3 linked regions of the Homo sapiens genome follow. The protein of the gene in region 1 purifies or fractionates together with the protein of each later gene. This does not show direct contact. Each region holds a gene or a part of one and is shown in the gene's direction. Other genes may lie near its edges. The genes, in order: DTNB, SNTB2 and UTRN.

What was found.
Region 2: the proteins of DTNB (region 1) and SNTB2 purify together in Homo sapiens (affinity purification with mass spectrometry; 2 studies listed by BioGRID and IntAct, with this or other methods). This does not show direct contact.
Region 3: the proteins of DTNB (region 1) and UTRN purify together in Homo sapiens (affinity purification with mass spectrometry; 3 studies listed by BioGRID and IntAct, with this or other methods). This does not show direct contact.

Annotation. Positions count from the first base shown.
Region 1 is NC_000002.12:25,383,524-25,390,625, reverse strand, and holds part of DTNB (dystrobrevin beta), read left to right. Parts: intron 1-2,264; coding exon 2,265-2,424; intron 2,425-3,247; coding exon 3,248-3,337; intron 3,338-3,474; coding exon of another isoform or gene 3,475-3,527; exon of another isoform or gene 3,528-4,264; intron 4,265-4,513; coding exon of another isoform or gene 4,514-4,563; exon of another isoform or gene 4,564-4,599; intron 4,600-5,415; exon of another isoform or gene 5,416-5,560; intron 5,561-6,736; coding exon 6,737-6,790; intron 6,791-7,102.
Region 2 is NC_000016.10:69,182,844-69,190,205, forward strand, and holds the start of SNTB2 (beta-2-syntrophin), read left to right. Parts: upstream 1-4,320; 5' UTR 4,321-4,323; coding exon 4,324-4,903; intron 4,904-7,362. UniProt on the Homo sapiens protein: Adapter protein that binds to and probably organizes the subcellular localization of a variety of membrane proteins. May link various receptors to the actin cytoskeleton and the dystrophin glycoprotein complex.
Region 3 is NC_000006.12:144,280,371-144,288,415, forward strand, and holds the start of UTRN (utrophin), read left to right. Parts: upstream 1-4,964; 5' UTR 4,965-5,451; intron 5,452-6,127; exon of another isoform or gene 6,128-6,300; coding exon of another isoform or gene 6,301-6,909; exon of another isoform or gene 6,910-7,584; intron 7,585-8,045. Other genes in the region: uncharacterized protein LOC124901418, read left to right, coding at 6,301-6,909.

The DNA of each region.
Region 1 (7,102 bases):
AAAATATAAGAAAAGCCAGGCATGGTGGCACACACGCACCTGTAATCCCATCTACTTTGGAGGCTGAGGCAGGAGAATTGGTTGAACCCAGGGGACGGAGGTTGCACTGAGCCAAAATCGCACCACTTCACTCCAGCCTGGGTGAAAGAGTGAAACTCCATCTCAAAAAAAAAAAAGAGAAGACGAAAAGAAAAAGAAAAGAAAAAGTTTAAAATTTCAATGAAAGCCAGTTTATCTGTTTGGTTTTGTTTTTACATATCATGGTTTGGGTGTTTTCTTAGAGAAATTTTATAGTTTTAGCCCTTATAGTTACTATGATCCATTTTAGTTTTAGCTCTTATAGTTACTATGATCCATTTTGATTTAGTTCATATTTATTTGTATCATGGAAAGATCTCAGAAAGCATGCTAAGTGATTAAAGCAAATTGCAAAGTGATATGAGCAGTACAATACCATTCATGCAAAATTTAAAAGCGTGAAATACCATCTATTATTCATAGCTATACATGCACATATAGGTTAAAAGTTTCACAGCAGAATTTTGATAGGGGTTGCCTCTGAAGGGAGGAGAGGAAAGAACTGGAACAGGAAAGAACTGGTGGACAAAAATATTGCAAATTTTTCTGCAATATTTTTAGGTTGAAATACATTTGACACAATATGAAGTTACCAATTTGGGGTGGTTAATTATGTTGTACTTTTTAGTTTTCTGTATTTTTTTTAACTTCTCAAAATACACATACACACACACACACACACACACACACACACACACACAAATGATTCAAAGTAAGAACCACAGAAAACAATCCATTTCTGTTGAGTTTGGTGGCCACACGGTTGAAGCACTGCGGTGGGGTGTCGTGCGTCCAGCCTGTCCACCTGTTCAGGGCCAATTCTGTTTGTATATGGGGTTTCTAGCTGAGAAAGCTAGAAGAAGGATAACTGTCTTCATTTGAATTCACTCTCACACTTTGGCTTCTATTTTTTCCAGTTTTGCTTCCACAGAAAACCCTAGTCCACCTTCCACACTCAGTTCCCGTTGTGCTGAAGAGCTACAGAGCCCACATCTCAGTGAGCGGCCCTTGATTAGTTTTCTCCTTTTATTTATTTTATCCCATTGCTCCAAACTTTCTCCACAACTATACCAGGGCCTCCCAAGGAAAGCTTGGTTTCTGTTTACCATGTGTCCTTTCTCACCTCGTCCCCGCGGGGTGGCCCCGGACAGCCTTGCTGTACATGTGCAGTGCATGTGGCATGACTGGCCCCATGGCCCCGCTTGCAGCCTGCAGCCGAGCTCCGCACATGCTCAGAGCATGCCCTGCAGGAAGTGGGGTCACAACCTGCAGAGTGCACACTGCCACCCTTGGAGTCAAGGGGTTGTTCCCATGCCTCCCACTGGCAAGCTGTGTGGCCTGACACAACGTCTCTTTCCATTCTTCTTCTTCTATAAAATGGACATAAAAATATATACCCTGGCTTGGTATGGTGGCTCACACCTGTAATCCTAGCACTTTGGGAGGCGAAGGCGAGCAGATTGCATGAGCTCAGGAGTTAAAGACCAACCTGGACAACGTGTTGAAACCCCGTATCTACTAAAAATACAAAAAATTAGCCCAGCGTGGTGGCGCACACCTGTAGTCCCAGCTACTCGGGAGGCTGAAGCAGGAGAATCTCTTGAACCTGGGAGGCGGAGGTTACAGTGAGCTGAGATCGTGCCACTGCACTCCACCTGGGCAACAAAGCAAGACTCTGTCTCCAAAAAAGATATATACGTATATAAATATATACATACACACACACACACACACACACACACGTATGTCCTTTCCACTCACAGGTTGCCGGCAGCAGCGGGGGGAGGGGTCCAAATGAGAACATGTACATGAATGTGTTTGCAAACAAAATGAAAGCTGTTTGCATGTTACTTCCTGCCCTGCAAGCCAAGCCCTTCTAGAGCCCTGGCCCAGTCACGCAGCTCACTCTGTCTCCACCACTCTGTGCCAGCCTCTTCTTTCCCTCCCATTCTTGGTCTTGTTCTTAGGATGTTCTCTCTCTCTGCCCTGCACGCCCCCTTCCTTTTTTCCTTTTCTTCCTCTCTCCAGTCTTGGAAGCAGCCTAACTCCTTCCTTTCAAGTATGATCTTGTACCACTGAACTGAGGCCCACTGGCTGGCTCTGGTTGATGGAGAAAAAGTACTTTCTTCCTTCCTCAAAGAGGTCAGGTACTTGAGATAACGTATTTTCTGTCTTTGAATCTCCAGGCTCAGGCCACAGGGTCACCACATACATCGCCCACCCATGGAGGCGGCCGGCCAATGCCCATGCCAGTGCGCTCCACGTCTGCCGGCTCCACCCCCACCCACTGTCCGCAGGACTCGCTGAGCGGAGTCGGGGGAGACGTGCAGGAGGCCTTCGCACAAGGTGAGTTTCTGGAGCAGAGTTCAGCGGGGAGCTGAAGGGATGTGCAAACACGGACAAGATTCCTGCTGAGGTTTTTTCCATTTCTGTTTTGTGCTCTTTGCTTGGAATGATCAGATTTTGACAGACAGTGTAAATAAGTCAGGTGCTGGCCCCTTCTCATGAGACGGGCTGGTCTCCAGCGGGAGGGCTGCAGGCTTCCTATGTGTGCCAAGAACAGGCCTCCTGGGGTTCTCTGCCCTTTTTTCTGGATTATTGGAAGTGCTTTGTCCTTTGGGCTTTGTCTCCTCCAGAGGAATTGGATGGAATAATTCCCTGGCCTAGAAGGGACTGTAACAGGCACTGTAACTGGGACCGTGCTGAAAGCACAGTATGCACGCCATTGTCACAGTCATCGGGGGAGCTGGTGACCAGCAGTATTAAGTAGTTGGGTGGGGATTCAGAGGGAAGTCCTGCTGGGGCTGGAGGTGAGAAGGGGAGGTGGTAGTGGTGGTTGTGGAGAGTACAGCCCCACCCCCACAAGGCTGAGGAAGACCTCGGTGGAATGCTTATTCTGGAACCCAGCTCTGGATTGTGTGGTGGCGGCAAAGCGTGGAGTTGACAGGATGCTGCTCCCTAGGTAGAGAGGGCAGAGGGAGAGGGACCAGTGGGCTGGTGCCTCCTGCCCCCGGTGTGCCTGGGAATGGGTGGAGCTGCTGTGGCCCCATCTCCCCTTAGGTGTTCCACACCTGTGTTCTCGGGCCTGGCAGAACTGAGGCATTTGCTCAGCCGTCTCTTCTCCACGCTCACCCACCCTGGCATCCCCATCTGCTCTGCCTCTCCTCAGGTACGAGGAGAAACCTCCGCAATGACCTGCTGGTGGCAGCTGACTCCATCACCAACACCATGTCATCCCTGGTGAAGGAGCTCCATTCAGGTGAAACCCAGAGCTCCCAGCCAGCTTCCTGGCCTCCCCTGCCTTGCCCGCGCCCTTCTCACTTCCTTGCCAGCACCGGCAGAACCTCACCACCCAGCTTGCACCACCCCATTTCATCACCTAACTTTGCCTTCTAGGAACACACTGGATGTCTCCACCCAGAGAGCCTCTGTCACACAGGATCGCGTAGGGGCGGTTTCACATTCAGGCCTATCTCAGGAGTGCATCTTGTGGAGCAAGCTGAATGTAGAGAAATTCAGACCTTTCAGTGCAGGCAGGCCCCTTCCTCACTTACCTCGTCTTCCATCTGTACTTTGTCCACAGCCGCTCTCTCCCTAGGCCTGACCGACCACCTCATTCTGAAACTTCCCTGGAGGTCTGGAGCGGAATCAGCCAGGAAAGCTCTGGACCTTCCCCTGCTGCCTTTCTGCTCTCTCCTGTTTGATTTGTTTTTGAAACCTATTCCCTCCTTTTGTCCGTGACCAGGCTCTGATTTCACCTGAAGTTCATGACCTGAGTCTGTCGCCTCTTCTGCTCCTTGTGTTCAGCTCATCTGTGACTTCTTTCTCAGTCTCTCCATCACCTCACCAATTCAGTGACTTCCCAAAGACCTTTACCTCGTGGCATTTCACCTTACATAAAACCCAGGAAAGAGAGAGAAAATAAAAGGCCATTCACGTATCCTCCTATCTCCAGGAATCCCCATGACTCTACCAGTTACGTAGGGGCCAGAGAGTCACTAACGATTTCACAGCGGTGGGGTCTCCATGTTTTGTGTTAAACTAATGGTTTCCCTCCCTAAGCGCTGTAGGTCACTCACACTGATGGCTCTCTTTTGTTTCTTTCCACCTAATGTAGTGCTTTTAAATACCTTGAAGTAGCTTAACAGGATTATTAAATAAAAAGATAAAGCAGTTTTTCCACGGACGATTCAAACACATACACTTATTCAAACACTCTTAGGGAAGGCAAGCCTTGGGTATTTTTCAGCCCTTCGTAGGAGAAAGCTCACATGTTTAGGGTTGTCATGGGACTGGACAGAGCCCCCAGCTCTGCTCTCAAGTCTGCCTGTTTTCATACAGACCAAAGTGAGTGTATAGCCCAGCTTCGTCTTTCCAGTCAGTTAAGGTCAGACGCTGCCTCTCTTGTTTGATGGTGCCACCCTCTCCATTCTAGCACTGTTTCTCAACCCCCATCAGAAGCACGGCCCCGCTCTGTACACATAAACAGAAGAGGCGACAGCCTTCAGGATGACCTCACAGGTGATTAGAAGGCGCTTTCCCTAATGCAGCTCCCCACAGATGTCAGAAATCCCACTTTTAGAGGAAATTTCTCAGGGAATTTCGGGCCATGGGAATTAACTACACTTGTACTTCATGGCCACTTATTAGAGTTTATGCAAAATAAGTGGCTTCTGCGTTCATCGTGCTAGGGTGAGAGGTCATTAAATACCATTAAGTGGAAAGCACATAGAGACCAAATAGCTTCACAAAAATGTAAAGCTTATAGGAATCCTCAGCAGTGTCTCATAGTAAGAAAGGATGGTTTCAACAAAATTATGTAGTGTAATTTGGAAGGTGCCTTAGAGAGCACATTGTCCAGTCCCTTACTTTAGAGATGTAGCCTGTGCTTATCAGAAAAGTGGTCTGCCTAAGGTCGTGCAGCTTGAAGGGGGAAAGCTGGTCCTAGAACCTGGGTCTTCAGAGCATCAAGCCAGAGATCTTACTCCCCTCCAGGACAAGATAGCAAACCCAGAGTCCCAGAGGCCCCTTTCCCTGATGCTGTCCTCTCAGTCACTGAAGCCTGTAGGTAGACGTGGACCAAAGCCACACATGGCACGGTATCCCTCTAACATGCAGACATAAACTCCCTTTACATGTGAGGGTGCCAATTTCTCAGTGAATGGAATAGCTTCACCCATCACCAACATGTTTTTACTGTCTCCTTGACAGTGACTTGACAGGTTTTTGTTCCAATGAGAGGACATACTCAGATTATCTTTACATATATTCTATACAGTGTATACATACTGTATATACATAGCTTGTAGTCCTCATCTTTATAAAGTTTTTTCACAGATAATCGAATCCTAGAATTGGAAAGGATCGAGGCCACAGGCACAGTGGCTCACACCTGTAATCCCAGCACTTTGGGAGGCTGAGGCAGGTGGATCACCTAAGGTCAGGAGTTTAAGACCAGCCTGACCAACATGATGAAACCCCGTCTCTACTAAAAATACAAAATTAGCCTGGCATGGTGGTGCATGTCTGTAATCCCAGCTACTCGGGAGGCTGAGGCAGGAGAATCGCTTGAACCTGGGATGCAGAGATTGCAGTGAGCCAAGATCGCGCCGCTGTAGTCCAGCCTGGGCAATGAGCAAAACTCCATCTCAAAAAAAAAAAAAGAAAAGAAAAGAAAAAAATTGTAAAGGATGTTAGAAGTCATTTAATCCAACTCGCCACCCAATAAAACAGTCCTCTGAATATTTCCAGCGAGCTCATTCATGATCAACTCTAATCACTGGAAACTTCTTCCTCAGTGGGGAGCCAAAATCTCACTTTCTGTAACTGATTTATCCCTGTCCTCTCAAGCTACCCAGGATAAGCTCAGTCCCTCCTCTGCAGGCTCGCCTTTCACGGGTTGGATGGCAAATGACAACCCTTCCTAGTTTTCTCCTCTGTAGACTGCTACACCCAATTCCTTCAACCTTTCCAAACGTGACATGGTTTTCTCTTACCAGCCTGCTTGACCATACCAGGATGTGGCCATTTTCCAAGGCTCCTATTCAAAGTACATGCCCAGGGCCCAGCACCCTGCTCTCCATCACAGGGGATCTTGTCCCTGCAGAGCACAAGGCATCTGTGACCCTCTTGAGTGTCCCCTGGAAAAGCACCTTAGACGGCATTAGCACTTCCCACATAGCCACTTTGCACTGTGCGGTCATTTTAAGTTTATCATCAGCTAAAACATACGGAATTTTTTTTTTTTAACAGAACCCCGTGTTAATCTAGGTATTCCCCCACCATATATTGTATGGTCACTTTCTTAAACCTGAATGCAAGACATTAGATGTCTCCCTGGTCATCACCACCTGAGGGCAGACAGGCATAGAACAGAGGCACGCAACCCCACACTGCACGCCCCCAGCCCTGGTCAGGAAAGTGAGCGATGTGACCGCACTGCTCCCTTTGGGCTGTGGTCTTACGGGCTCCTATTCAGCAGTGCTGGGGCGTGGGCCGCACAAGTGCAGACTGGTGAGCTGAAGCACCCTCAGAGGCCTGCAGCCAGGAGCTGTTAGCTAGAGTTTCCTCCCAAGCCTCAGCAGTTGCTTTGTTCACCCTCCTTCTGTACTTGTCCTGTGCCGAAGGGTCACTGGCCTCCTTGGACTTGTTTTCACAGCAGAGGAAGGTGCAGAGGAAGAAGAAGAGAAGATGCAGAATGGGAAAGACAGAGGTAAAGGCAGCTCAGCAGGACTGCTCGTTTAAATGGGGAGCCCGAGCTCATGGATCAGCCGCCCCCCACTTTGTTTCTGCATTCCTCCCTGCCACCACCTTTCCCAGAGCTTTCGGACCCGAGGTCCCTGTACCTACTTTTCCCATCTGACAGTCAGGTTTTACCTTCCAGGTGACAAGGTCAGTCGATCACCAAGAGCTTCCTCATTTCCTGATCCTGGGATAGGTAGTTGGGATACAGGAAGTAGATACAAGTAGAACACAAAAGATGACCCTTTGACTGGAGAAGTTTATGATCTAGTTAATAAAGCAA
Region 2 (7,362 bases), on another chromosome or scaffold:
TCACATAACTCAGGCCTCTGGGGGCTCACGCCTCAGCTGGAGCAGAGCCAGAACGTCTGTGACCGCAGGTGCACTTGGGCACATTGGGACCTGCTGGAACAGCAAGCTGGCCTCTGCAGTTGATTTAGGAGAGGGCTGGAGGGTTGAGCTTTTGCTGACATTTGCAGCTTGGAAAATCCGACTCCACTAATCGCAAAGAGGATTCTGCTGTAATGATTTTTTTTTTGGTAAGATACTTTTCTCATTTTGAATTCTTTCTTCATTTGGGCTCTGGACACTTCCCAGCCTCTACATTTATTATTTTAACTTCTGTTACAGGAGGCTCTTCAGAAGTTTCTGCCTGCACATGAACATGCATTCACAGAGTGGTGCACGGCCACGGTTTACGAGCCTCAACGTGCACTTCATGAGCAAGCAAGTTTACAGCCCCTTTTACAGGAATTGGTGCACATTCCCTCTGCTTGCCCCTGTCCCTGCCCACATGAAAACACAGGGATTTTTTGCTACTACTGCTGAAGAAAAGTTAGAGGACACCTTGACCTCATGATTTTGCTGAGCACTTGCTTTCTTAACAGTGTGCTTTCTGGACCCTTAGTTTATTTTTTATTTTTTTAATTTTTTTTTTTTTTGAGACAAACTCTTGCTCTGTCGCCCAGGCTGTAGTGCAGCGGTGCGATCTCGGCTCACTGCAACCTTTGCCTCCTGGGTTCAAGAGATTCTTGTGCCTCATTCTCCTGAGTAGCTGAGATAGGGGTGTGTACCACCACACCTGGCTAATTTTTTTTTTTTTTTTTTTTTGTATTTTTAGTAGAGATGGGGTTTCACCATGTTGGTCAGGCTGGTCTTGAACTCCTGACCTCAAATGATCTGCTTGCCTCACCCTCCCAAAGTTTTGGGATTATAGGCATGAGCCACTGTGCCCAGCTTGGACCCTTATTTTTGAGGTCTGAAGGGTACTGTATAGTGAAAATAACCCTGGATCCAGAGGCTGGTAGTCCTGAGTTGTCTCTGCCTCCTTCCTATGGACTTTGGGCCATGGTCTTTGGTCTTTGGCTCTCTGGCCCTCAGTTTTCTTAGCTCTTCTAGTCCATGAAGCTGGAGGAGGTGGGTGGGTTGTATCATTCATGTCTGAATAAAAGCCACTGCAGGCTCTGCAATGTGCACAGCAGTGGCTCATGGCCTTTGGTCAGGGAAACTTCCTGCCAATTGGATGAATCACAGGCTTCAAAAAAATACCTTAGAGACCAAATTTTGCATACAATTTTTGGGAATGCCCACGTACACTTGCCCCAACAAAAGGCCATGGCCTCCAGGCTAAGAAAGTCAGATCTGCGGCCAGGCACGGTGGCTCACGCCTGTAATCCCAGCACTTTGGGAGGCCGAGGCGGGTGGATCATGAGGTCAGGAGTTCAAGAACAGCCTGACCAACATGGTGAAACCCCACCTTTACTAAAATACAAAAATTAGCTGGTGTGATGGCACGCGCCTGTAATCCCAGCTACTCGGGAGGCTGAGGCAGGAGAATTGCTTGAAACTAGGAGGTGGAGGTTGCAGTGAGCTGAAATCAAGCCACTGCACTCCAGCCTGGGTGACAGAATGAGACTCCATCTCAAAAAAAAAAAAAAAAAAAGATCTATAAAGTCAAGTTCAAACTCCTCGATATTTTGTTATGCTTTTCAGCTGGGCGTGGTGGCTCATGCCTGTAATCCCAGCACTTTGGGAGGCCGAGGCGTGCAGATCACCTGAGGTCGGGAGTTCAAGACCAGCCTGGCCAACATGGAGAAACCTTGTCTCTACTAAAAAATACAAAATTAGCCAGGCGTGGTGGCACATGCCTATAATCCCAGCTACTCGGGAGTCTGAGGCAGGAGAATCGTTTGAACCTGGGAGGCAGAGGTTGCAGTGAGCCGAGATCGCGCCATTGCACTCCAGCCTGGGCAAAAAGAGTGAAACTCTTGTCTCAGAAAAAAAAAAAAGATGCTTTTCACACTCATATCCTCCCATTTCCACTGACCCTATGCTCTGTTCACATTGGAATTCTAGCATCTTCCTAAGTAACCATCTATGATGTTAATTTTGTGTCAACTTGACTGGGCTAAGGGATCCCCAGGTAACTAGTAAAACATAACCTCTGGGTATACCTGTGTGGGTGTTTCAGGAAGAGATTAGCATTTCCACGGTAGACTCTAAAGAAGATCACCCTCACCAATGTGGGCAGGCAGCATCCAGTCAGTTGAGGGCCTGAGCAAAACAAAGGGCAGAGGTAGGGGGAATTCATTCTCTGCCTGAGCTGGGACATCCATCTTCTCCTGCCCTCAGACTTTGGTGAACCTGGCTCTCGGGCCTTGGCAGTGGGATGGTGACTTACATCATTGTCCCCCCACCCCAACTCCCACCCTCACCCCCTTCTCAGACTTTCTGTTTTGAGACAGGGTCTTGCTTTGTCACCCGGGCTGGAGTACACTGGTGCGATCTCAGCTCACTGCAACCTCCACCTCCTGGGTTCAAGCAATTCTGCCTCAGCCTCCCGAGTAGCTGGAATTATAAGGGCCCACCACCATGCCTGGCTAATGTTTGTATTCTTAGTAGAGACGGGGGTTTCACCACATTGGCCAGGCTGGACTCGAACTCCTGACCTCAAGTGATCTGCCTGCCTCGGTCTCCCAAAGTGCTGGGATTACAAGCGTGAGTCACCGCGTGTGGCTCAGACTTTTTTTTTTTTTTTGGAGATGGAGTTTTGCTCTTGTTGCCCAGGCTGGAGTGCAGTGGTGCAATCTTGGCTCACTGCAACCTCTGCCTCCCGGATTCAAGCGATTCTCCTGCCTCAGCCTCCTGAGTAGCTGGGATTGCAGGCGCCTGCCACCACACCTGGCTAATTTTTTGTATTTTTAGTAGAGACGGGGTTTCACCATGTTGGCCAGACTGGTCTATAACTCTTGACCCCAGGTGATCCACCGCCTTGGCCTCCCAAAGTGCTGGGATTACAGGTGTAAGCCACTGCACCCGGCCCAGACTTTCTTTTTCTTTCTTTCTTTCTTTCTTTTTTTTTTTTTTTTTTTGAGGCAGAGTTTTGCTCTTGTTGCCCAGGCTGGAGTGCAATGGTGCCATCTCAGCTCACCGCAATCTCTGCCTCCCAGGTTCAAGCAATTCTCCTGCCTCAGCCTCCCAAGTAGCTGGGATTACAGGCATGTGCCACCACGCCCGGCTAATTTTTTGTATTTTTAGTAGAGATGGGGTTTCTCCATGTTGGTCAGGCTTGTCTCAAACTCGTGACCTCAGGTGATCCGCCCACCTCAGCCTCTCAAAGTGCTGGGATTAAAGGCTTGAGCCACCGCGCCCGGCCCAGACTTTCAATCTCAGGTTTATACCACTGATTCTGGGTCTCAGGCCTTTGGGCTTGGATTGGAAGTGCACCACCAACTTTCCTGGGCCTGCAGTTTGCAGATGGCAGATCGTGGGACTTCTCAGCATCCATAATCTCGTGGCCAGTCCCTTGTAATAATAATAAATTTATATATCTCTATATATCCTATTGGTTGGTTTCTCTGAAGAACCCTAAGACACCATCATTCTGCAAATATCCTTGAGGCCTGCCAATTGTGGCTTCAGGGTTTAAGAAGACATGGTTCCCTCTTGAATTACAGGCAAGTAAACGAGATTACAAAACATTGACAAAGGCTTGGATCATGCTGTTGGACCTTTGCTTGAGCTGTTCACCGTCCGTTGTTACCTCTGTGAAGCTGACCCCAGGCCTAACCAAATGTTCCTTTTATGCTGTTCTGGGGACGTCTTCTGCATGTCACTTAACCACATAGTATCACACCTAGTTGGTTGGTTCTGCATTTTCCTTCCCCACTAGACCGCAAACTCTCAGCTGTTGTTGGTACTATTGAGCTTAAGTACAGGGCCTCAAAAGGAGCCGGAGTACAGGGCTAAGCGCTCAGTACACAGGGTACGAACCAATCAATGCAAGAATGAACGTGCCACCGGGTCTTGCAGGCTTGAGAAGTGTTTCTCCAAGCTGATTTTGCTTTCCGTGCCCGGGCAGCTCCCGTGAATTGCACGGTAGAGGTCAGGAGTTTCTGGGGGGTCCGTGGGGAGCCAATGGAAGGATGAGGAGAAATGCAGTCCCACCGCATTCGGGTTGCCCACGTCCGGCGAGAGGCGAGTGATCGGACAACTTCTGCACCTCCCGGAAGCGGCTGCGCCGGCCCCGCCCCTCCAGAGGCAGGCGTGGCCTCATGAATAATGAATCGTGCGGGGGAGGGGCCGGGCCCGCCCCTCCGGGCGGGAAGAGGGAAGCGCCGAGGCTGCCTGACTGGAATGAGGGTAGCTGCGGCGACTGCGGCGGCTGGAGCGGGGCCGGCCATGGCGGTGTGGACGCGGGCCACCAAAGCGGGGCTGGTGGAGCTGCTCCTGAGGGAGCGCTGGGTCCGAGTGGTGGCCGAGCTGAGCGGGGAGAGCCTGAGCCTGACGGGCGACGCCGCCGCGGCCGAGCTGGAGCCCGCTCTGGGACCCGCGGCCGCCGCCTTCAACGGCCTCCCAAACGGCGGCGGCGCGGGCGACTCGCTGCCCGGGAGCCCAAGCCGCGGCCTGGGGCCCCCGAGCCCGCCGGCGCCGCCTCGGGGCCCCGCGGGTGAGGCGGGCGCGTCGCCGCCCGTGCGCCGGGTGCGGGTGGTGAAGCAAGAGGCGGGCGGCCTGGGCATCAGCATCAAGGGCGGCCGCGAGAACCGGATGCCGATCCTCATCTCCAAGATCTTCCCCGGGCTGGCTGCCGACCAGAGCCGGGCGCTGCGGCTGGGCGACGCCATCCTGTCGGTGAACGGCACCGACCTGCGCCAGGCCACCCACGACCAGGCCGTGCAGGCGCTGAAGCGCGCGGGCAAGGAGGTGCTGCTGGAGGGTGAGCGGGGCCGGGCGGGAGGGTGGGCAGGCCGCGGCGGCCTGGGCTCGCGGGAGCTCACTTTGTTCCTGCCCCGCCGGCGGGGCGAGCCGGTTCTCTCCCCGTCTCTCTCCAAACCCGGGTTTCTGGAGCTTTCAGTGTGGAAAAACGGATGCTTCTTGCAGGAAAAGTTGGGCAGCCGCCGAAGTGTGGCTTGCAGCCCCTAGGGAAGACTCGGCTGAGATTGAGTAAAAAGCAGCTGCCTATGAAGCCCCACCTCGGCCCGATAAGCTGACACTAAGAACTTGAGGGAGAGCGAACGGCTCGAGTGGGTCTGTCTCCGTTTGCCCGCTGAGAAGTGCCGGGTTGGCGCTTAACTCACTCACCTCTGGCTCCTCGGGGCGGGCGGGTCTATTAAAAAAAAAAAAAAGTCCATCTTCACCGATGCCAGCGGTATGCTCGGGCAAACCACCAAAGCGCTGGTTAATTTATGGGAATTTAACCCATCATTGGCTCTCAACAATAACCAAAGGAGATCATAGCATTTCATTGAAGCCAGAAAGCTGAAACAGCAAGTCTGTGTGGTTAACGAACCTTGTTTAACAGTGGAGGCTCACGTGTTTGAACATTTACTGCCAACTAGAGTTTTGCCCCTTTTGCAAGTCTGCTGCCAGCTTCCTACCACTCACAGGCGCGCTGCTTCAAGACTCTTGGGGTTTTTGTAAGAAACTTGAAATGGCAAATCACAAGATAGGTTTCAATAACCAGGATTATTCTTTACGTTAAGTTATATGTATGTGATCTGTAAGTTGGATCTTTCATGATGAATTTGAACTAAGGCAAAAATAAAATTCCTCTCCTCTAAGGACTCATGCATGTTGGAGGTGATAGAGTATTGTAAATTATAAACGAAAAGTCAGCTGCTTTCTTCAGAAATTTTTGAGCGGTCAGCTTTCTTTCACTGGTGATTATGGCTAGCTGTGTTGAAAAGAATATAAAAGAAGATGCTGTCCCTACTTGGTCTCTAGTTGGAGAAATGATAGAAAAATGCAAAACAACTTATAGGGAGGAAAGGAATGAAGTTGGTGATTACGTCGTGAAACTATACTTAAATGCCAAAGGAATGCAAAGTTAGAAAATAGTTAGTGGAGATGGAATTAGCCAGGGAGGACTTTTTCCCGAAGCTGAATCTTGAGCCAGGTCTCCAAGAAGTGATGGACATAGGCAGGCAGGGATGAGTCAGGAGGGTATTCCTGGCAGAGGAAGGACAGAAGGGAAGGGCTGGGGGCTGCTGGTGAAGAAGGACCAATCGTCAAACCGAGAGGCCAGAAGTCCAACTTGGCACAATGGATTTTCACTTTCTTATAAATCAGCTTGTGAATATTTGGAAAAATACTGATTTACCAGAAATGATTTCATGTACACCAGTTGTGAAGTTCCAGTGTCCCACCTTTATAATATCCTATTTATAAACCTTATTTATATTGCATGTCTAGGTGGGGCTAGACATTGCTCGGAAATTAGTGTTAATAGAAGGAGTAAAATTATAGATTGTGGTTTGGGTGTGTGTCCAAAAAAAACTGTTACTCTAAACGTGTACCTTGAAGTTGGTCTAGCTAAGCATTTGGTTATAAATTCTTACATCCAGAATATTGAATTTAGTACTATTTATGTAGTCCTCAGTTGTGATGGGCAGACAGTTGAACCTTGTACACCATATTTAGAAAAAAAACACAAAAAACCTTTTGGCCAGGCGTGGTGGCTCATGCCTATAATCCCAGCACTTTGGGAGGCCAAGGTGGGCAGATCACCTGAGGTCAGGAGAACATGACGAAACCTCGTCTCTACTAAAAATACGAAAATTAGCCAGGCGTGGTGGCAGATGCCTGTAATCCCAGCTCCTAGGGAGGCTGAGGCAGGGGAATCGTTTGAACCTCAGAGGTGGAGGCTGCAGTGAGCCAAGATCTCACCACTGCACTCCAGCATGGATGCCCAGCCTGGATGACAGAGCAAGACTCCATCTCAAAAACAAACAACCAACCTACTTTTTGTATAGGTATAGTTTGAACCTAGTATTCAGACCAGTAAAATGAAAACCTTGCAGTAAATGCTTCCCAGTCTTTATTGGGCTAAAATAGGCCACGTGTGCTTTTAGAAAGATGGCCGCATAATAACATGTTTATTGAATGCCTTTTTACCTAACATGCAGGTTCTACTTTATTTTCCCACTTTGTACAAGACAAGCAGTTTTTGTTCTTATAAGTAGTGAGGAAGTCAATATAGTAGATTTACGACATTGCATTTTCAAGCCACTGGGTGTAAAAATAAAATTACTCAAAATATGTAAAACCACTGAAAACAATGATTTAATTGAACCAGTCAAACATTATTTAAAATTGAGAGCTGGTGTCCCATCCAGGTAGGCCACTTTTAAAAGACAGATTTTAAGTTTAGTCTTTAAAGTTTTCAGGCTGTACCAT
Region 3 (8,045 bases), on another chromosome or scaffold:
TTTCTTCCCCCACCTTCTCCCCTCTTCTTCTGGTTAACAATGAACTCATGTAACATAGGGATCTTCTCTTTTCACTTCTCAGTAATTTGGACACTTTCCCCCAATAGATTGTTTTATTTTACCTAAAGGTATTCCCTGATCAGCTTTGTATCTTTCATTTGCTTCTTTGTAAAATCAGAGGGTTGGCCGGGGGCAGTGGCTCACGCCTGTAATACCAGCACTTTGGGAGGCTGAGGCGGGCGGATCACGAGGTCAGGAGATCGAGACCATCCTGGCTAACAAGGTGAAACCCCATCTCTATTAAAAATACAAAAAATTAGCCGGGCATGGTGGTGGGCGCCTGTAGTCCCAGCTACTCGGGAGGCTGAGGCAGGAGAATGGTGTGAACCCGGGAGGCAGAGCTTGAAGTGAGCCGAGACCACGCCACTGCACTCCAGCCTGGGAGACAGAGCGAGACTCTGCCTCAAAAAAAAAAAAAAAAAAAAAAAAAAAAAAAAATTCAGAGGGTTGATGGAAAGACTCTGTAAAATCTTTTTCAGCAACAACATTATAAAATTATACAAATTAAATTAAGCCAAGAAAAATTTATAAGTAGGATAAACTCAGCGTAGACTGTGTTTTGTTCAGTTTTCCCCGAAGGTGGTGCTCTGGGTTTCCCATCCTCCACCCTCTCTGCGTCTCTTCCTTCTCTTTTTGGCGCTTCCTTTATTCTCCCATTTTGATCAATCAGTTGCTCTTCTCTGCCCAACAACTTAGTGCTTTTATTTTGCCCTTAGCTTCTTTGGATTCCACATTTCAGCTCCTGTATTCTCAATATTCCTGTCCTCCTTGTCCTCTCATCATTAAACTTTCTCTTCAGAGCCTCATTTCCTCAGAACTGGGCCATGCTTCCTACCACCTGTGCAGGTTAAATTGCCAGGAATAGTCCTAGGGTTTTACCAATTGTAGGTAACCTCCAGGGTGGTCCGAATCGAATGAAACACTTGAATTCAAAGAGATAAAGCTAATCACGGGTATTTCATAATTATGATTGATTCAGTATGGATTTTTTTTTGGTAGGGCAATTTCTTGACCCCTCCAATCATCCAAAGTGGCCTATTTAAGGCCAGCACCCCAGGGCACAGGGGCTCAAAGTGTGGCTCCTCAGCTATTCTGATCTAAAGCTAAGGCATGTTAAACCTGCAGCTTCCTGGGCCCCACCAGGCCTAGTCAATCAGAATTTCTGGGGAATGGCAATCAATCTGAATTTAAAATATATTCTCTGGGTAATTCTTGAGTGCATTAAGTTGTAAGGAACTCAGCCTTTGTACTATTTATTTTCTAAAAGTTTCATGTGCTATTATTTTTTGTTTCTTCAATTCTATTACAAAAATTTATATGATAAAATTTTATCAACTCGCACACATACTAGACGTTTGACTGAAGAATTTACCAACAATACTCAGCAAAAATCCAGTATCTATTACACACAAGCTCCAGATTTATACTTTTTTTACCTGAAAAATATAAGAAAGGCTAAATTCCCTAAACTTTCCTCCTCTCTTAAATGCTTGTATGTGGGGCTTTAATTATAGTCAATACCAAAGGTAAAGCTAAAGGAGTGTCTTGTTTTTTTATACATTGTGTATTTTCCCCTGTTTCTACTGTTTAAAGAAAAACTGCATTTATATAGTCTTGCACAAAGTTTAGTAGCAAATGTTTTCCTTTTGGTTCTTATATTAGGATGCAGTTCCCTGTATGGGAATAATATTTATGTGAATCATGTCTATATACACTATACACACATATACATATATCTTTATATATGAATCTATATATACACTACTCATATCATAATTTTCTCCTTTGTCAAAGGCTTTCTATCCTGCAGTGACACTAACTCCATTTTCCTTAATTTTCACAGTTCTGTGGTGACAGCAGGGCAATTCTGACTTTGGGTTACCAGTAGACCCAGGGCCACATTCCTATTATTCTCTCCAGATGTTCTACAGCGATCTGATCTTTGGGATGAGCAGACAAAACCCCACTGAGCATCCTTGTTGCAGGCCCATTACCTTAGAGGCCTGTCTCCACCGTGCCTCACCTAGATTCTCTGGATATAAAGGAAGATCACACTGTGCTTTATGGAAATATAGCCCTCTGTGGTCAAGATCGCCCACCAAATGTGGTTTCCCTACCAAATAAAGAAAGTGTTGGGGGACAGGACCAGCACAGGACCAGCTTGAGATCTCTTGATCGTTCCATCAACAAGAATTCCGCCCTCCCTCCCTCCCTTCCTCTTCCTTCCCTCCCTCCCTCCTTTATTTCTCTCTTTCTCTCTTTCTTTCTTTCTGACAGTCTTGCTCTGTCACCCAGGCTGGAGTGTAGTAGCGCCATCTTGGCTCACTGCAACGTCTGCCCCGGGGTTTAAGCGATTCTCATGCCTCAGCCTCCTGAGTAGCTGGGATTATAGGCATGTGCCACCACGCCCAGCTAATTTTTGTATTTTTAGTAGAGACAGAGTTTCTCCATGTTGGCCAGGCTGATCTCGAACTCCTGACCTCAGATGATCCACCTGTCTCGACCTCCCAAAGTGCTGGGATCACAGGTGTGAGCCACTGCACCCAGTCAACAAGAATTTCTTTAGCCTCTTTTGCTCATTACCTACAAAGAGCATCAGTCTCTGCCTGGAGAGAAGGGCTAGAAACAGATAGGGCACAGGTCCCCAGGTAACTGGCTGTAAGCCACTATGGCTGATATGCGGGGCAGGTCACTCCTGCACAGAAGGTGGCTTGTTGGCCTCCTGTTCCATCTCTTACAGGCGTTGAGGAAGCTCGACTAAACATCTCCTCACAGCTTACAATCCCAGAAATCATAGGACCCTAAACGTGCGTTTTTCAAAATTTTTGAGCTAAAATGATGTATTACTTTGTAAATTGTGAAAAGTGTCACAAATATTAATTTAAGTGACAACATCATCAAACACTCCAATGTGGCCTTATTATCTATTTTGAAGGAGAAAATCTGAGTTTCATCAACTCAACCAGGATACAGTGAGTGATAAGCAACTTTTGGTGTCTGCAAAATGATCAGTTAAAAAAAACCTGGGGGCTGGGCACGGTGGCTCATGCCTGTAATCCCAGCACTTTGGGAGGCCCCGTCTCTACTAAAAATACAAAAAATTAGCAGGGCGTGGTGGTGGGCGCCTGTAGTCCCAGCTACTAGGGAGGCTGAGGCAGGAGAATGGCGTGAACCCAGGAGGCGGAGCTTGCAGTGAGCGAGATCGCGCCACTGCACTGCAGCCTGGGCAACTGAGAGAGACACTGTCAAAAAAAAAAAAAAAAGAAAGAAAGAAAGAAAGAAAAAATCCTGGAGTCCCTCTATGTGACCATACTCAGCTAGCACTTGATCTGTTCTTTTCTTATGGCATTTATCTCCCGGATCTTGTATATACTTACTTGTTTACATGTCTTATCTCACCTACTACATTCCAAGTTCTTTAAGGGTAAGATCACTATCAGATTTATCTTTGCTTTACCCACAGAACCAGCAAACCTGACAGCCCTAAACTGATGCTTGTTAAATGAATGAATGAAGTGAATGAATAAAATCATACCCATTTCAAGTTAATCCTTTGGATTTTATTTGGCTTATACGTAGAAAATCATCAAAAGGAAGGAAACTGTCCTAGAAACCTTACAAGGAAGAGTCTCTTTTGGGAATCTCCTACCTGCCCCCTCCCTGGAGCACTTAGGGATGGATGGGGGAAACTTTCACTATAACAAAAGGCGAGTAAACTCTTTCTGAAAATTAGTTTAAGGCCCCTAGTGGTTTAATCTTTACTGCCGCGTAAATTAACTCAAATATTAAGCCAGCAATAAACCGGCGCTCCAGTATCAACCATCCTTTTCTCTGTTAATACGAACTAGGAACTCAGGTTGCTGTTTTCTTTCCCCTCCCACGTGTGCTGATCGTGTAAAAGAATCACAGGAACACACGAGCAATGAAATGTGTAAATAAGAAAAATGCACACACATCACGAGCTCATTTCTTCCCAGATATTTTTTGGTCAACCTCTCAAGCTTGGAACAGGCTCTATAACAGATGTGCGTTTGTGTGTGCATATTGGAAAACAGAAAAATAAGGTCAGCGCAAACACTACTTGTAATACAAACTAATGTAAGAGAAAACTTCTTTTTCAATATTAACAACGACACTAGAGAAATAATGTAAAATAAATATACGGTTGGAACTAGGGGTAAAAAAAAAATCAGCAACGTCAGCAAACTGAGATGGGGTGAGTTGGAAGGCAGATTGGAATTTATCTCTTAAAAAAATATCACCCTAACTAGAGACCTGTTTTGCCTAAGGGGACGTGACTCACATTTTCGGATAATCTGAATAAGGGGAATTGTGTCTGCTCGAGGCATCCATTCTGGTTCGGTCTCCGGACTCCCGGCTCCCGGCACGCACGGTTCACTCTGGAGCGCGCGCCCCAGGCCAGCCAAGCGCCGAGCCGGGCTGCTGCGGGCTGGGAGGGCGCGCAGGGCCGGCGCTGATTGACGGGGCGCGCAGTCAGGTGACTTGGGGCGCCAAGTTCCCGACGCGGTGGCCGCGGTGACCGCCGAGGCCCGGCAGACGCTGACCCGGGAACGTAGTGGGGCTGATCTTCCGGAACAAAGTTGCTGGGCCGGCGGCGGCGGGGCGAGAGCGCCGAGGGGGAGCCGGAGCGCTGCAGAGGCGCGGGCCGGAGGGCTGGCGCTGATCTGCACCCTTCTCATCTGGAGAGCGGACCCCTGGCTGCCCGGAGGCGAGCCCCTTCCCGGGGGGTGGGGGCGGCAACGCGCGACCCAGCGGTCCTGCGCCCCACCCTCCCTCCTCCGCCTCCAGCGCTCGGCTCCAACAAAGGGGCAGGCCCGCAGCGGGGAGGAGGAGGAGGAGCCGCCGAAGGAGCGAGCCTCTCTCGCGCACAAAGTTGTGGAGTCGTTTTTCCTCGGAGCAGGGAAGCGGGCAGCAGCAGCCGGCCGCGGGCTTTCTCCCGCCGAGGGGCGAGGAGGAGCCTCTGGCTCCAGAAGCCGATTGGGGAATCACGGGGAGCGGCGCCCCCCTTCTTTTGGGTCATTTCTGCAAACGGAAAACTCTGTAGCGTTTGGCAAAGTTGGTGCCTGCGCGCCCCTTCCAGGTTTGCGCTTTGACTGTTTTGTTTTTGGCGGAACTACCAGGCAGGAAGATTGCACAAGTAAGGGGCGTTTTCAGTCGGGTGTCAATTTCTCTTTCTTTCTTTCTTTTTTTAAAATTTCGGTTCGTGTCTGCTTCTCCAAGCTTTATTTTTTTTTTTAAATACATCGCACCACCAAACTAACACTCGCACACACCCCCGCGGTTACTCCGTGTCAAACTCCTAGAGGAGCCCTTGGCCAGCTCGGGGTGCGGCGGTGGCGACCGGCAGGCGAGGAGGCCCGCGGGCAGCAGGTAAGCCCATGCATTATTGAAGCCTCGGGCTGGTAATGTGACTACAGCCCCCGAGGGAATGGGGCGGGGGCCGGGAGGAGGATGGCTCTTTCTGTGGTTCTTCCGCCTGGGATCGGCGTCCCGAGCTGCTTCCCAAGTCCCAGAGTCGAAGATGGGAGTAACTTTTGCGTGCCCTTTCCTCGGGGCCTCAGTTTAGCTCCCCGCGGTGCGAGAGAGAATGCCGGAGGCGTGGAGAGCTCGGGCGTGGAGGTCCTTGGGATCCGTACTAGTTGTGAACGATCCAAACTTATCTGACCAGCTCTGTGCTGCCTCCCTGCTCCCCTAATCTTCCTCCCCGCCGGGGTGACAGAGTCGCCCTCCGTGCATCGCGCGGTGCAGGGCGCTGGGCCAGTGATTTGCAAGAGGGGACGTGGCCTCTTAGGAGAGTCTGTCACAGACACCCGGGCCCGGGGAAGGCGGGGCTCCGGCGGTGTCCACAGGAGAGGGTGGGCAGAGGGTGGCTGTGTGGTCGGCGGCCAGCGGAGCGCTTCCCAGCCAGCCGCCCGGCGGGGAACGTGCTTGACCTCTGGGTGGTTGCTGCTCCCAAGGGTGGGGCTCCGGAGAGTGTGGCGCGATCGCCAAGCTCCCTGGCAGCGGCCCTGGAGAGACTGAGGGGACAGGAGGAGGGGGGCGCCCCATTGGTGTGTAGTCCCGCGCAGTCGCCGGCTCTCCTTTTCCGGACTCTGGGGATCTCTTGCTGCAACTGACAAGGTAATTCATGCCCCGCTTTGGCCCGGGGTCCGAGGCTGTGGTTGCTCAAGGCCACTTAAAAACCAACAAAGCACCAATTGAAGGCTGTGCAACTTTCAGATGGCAGGTTGTTCAAAGGATTTTTTCCTCCAAGCCTCAGATTATGAAAGGGACTCATTCCAGTGCGTTTTTCGAGGAGGAGGGAGAAAACGTTGCCCGACCTCCGAGAGAGCTGTGGGACCAGCACTTTATTTTACAAGGAACTGCAGAGCTCGGGTTCTAACTCCACGGCCCCGCTCTCTGAGGTGTTCAGGACAGGGCCTCCTCTTTCCCAGCCTTCAGGTCAGCCGGATCACCAGGGCCTTGCGGGCCAGTTCCCCCTGCCGCGGTTGGGAGGGTCAGTGCAGCGGTCGCCGCGGCCAGAGCGCGCGGAGCTCGGGGGAGGCCGGATTCCCTAGGTCTGAGCCGACCCTCCCGGCCGCCCGGCCGGGCGGCAGCGACCGCATCCATTCCTTTGTAAGTTGCACCGGCCTCAGGAAGTCGATCTGGGCCCTCCCGGTTCGTTGGCGGTGGGCGTGGGAGACGCAGCCTGCGGATAGCTCAGGGTCAGGGGAGAGGTGGAGGAATGCGAAGCTTGTGGGTAGTTCTGCGGTGACGGACAGGGTTGGCGTGGAACCATTCCCCGCCCCTTTTACCAGCCTTTATGGGACCGATGAGACAACTCTTTAACTCTCCTTTGGGTGTTTACCTAAAATTTATTGGCTCTGTAAACAGTATTAATCACAGTAGTATTAACCTTCCCTGGAGCGCTTCCGAGTGTAAATGGCAGTTCTTGGCACTCACCGTTTTCTTTTACTGTGTTTCAAGCAGAGCAGCAAACTCTTGTCCGCTTGGCTTCCTTTTCTACTATCTCAATCGTTCCTAGGTTTTGGTTCCTATAGTAAATTAATGAATAGTGTTTGCATTACACAGCATTTCCATCATAATGCACACTGTTGGATATATATGTGCTATATACATAAAATATAGTACAAAATAAAAATTATATACATATATTCATTGTATAATTCCTAAAATCTTAAAAAATTGAAACATTAGTTTTGTCTTTAAGGCTGTCACCTTATGTTTATTTTTTAAACACCTTATGTTTATTTCATACACTCTTGCTTGGTGGTCCATATGACAGCCGGAAGCGTTCTGAAGGGAGAGTTAGTGAATATCGACTTGACTGGATTGGTTTCAGTAAGAACATCTGGCTTTTACAGAATATCATTTGAGGGAAGGGAAATCTAGGGCAGAGGTAACAATAAATTGCATTTGTATAGGGCTTGAAGCTTCTAAAGCAACATCTCATTCATTGATTCTCAGTTTCTCACCTAGCCTTCTGTGAAGATGGTGTTCCCTCCATTTTATAGGTGTGGAAGACGGAGGGTCACACTGGGATGCATTGTTCGTGGTGAAACTTTGATTCTGTCTCCTGAGAACCAAAGATTCTGCATTTGGCAATTAGAAGGAGTCATCCTTTGCCTTAAGTGTACTCAAATTCCTCTGGCCATTAATGGCAAGTAACCTCAGTGGCTATCACTATTTAAATAGCCTTCTGTTATTCTTCTTTCTCCCCATTTTCCTCTGTACTCTGATCACCTTTTCTGCTGTATCTTTGCAACCTGTAAGGGATTTTCATTATCAAGAAGAGAAAAATTTGAAAAATCACCTTGAGGAGAGTGGCAAGTGAAACATTATAGTGAAGAAGTGTTACTGATAATGGGCAAATGGAATAAAGTAGTGTGTAAACAGTTGACTTTTCTCTTTTATGGGTGAATAAAGGCTTTGGGTAGCATAGAAGTGGAGATCTTGGCTAAGAC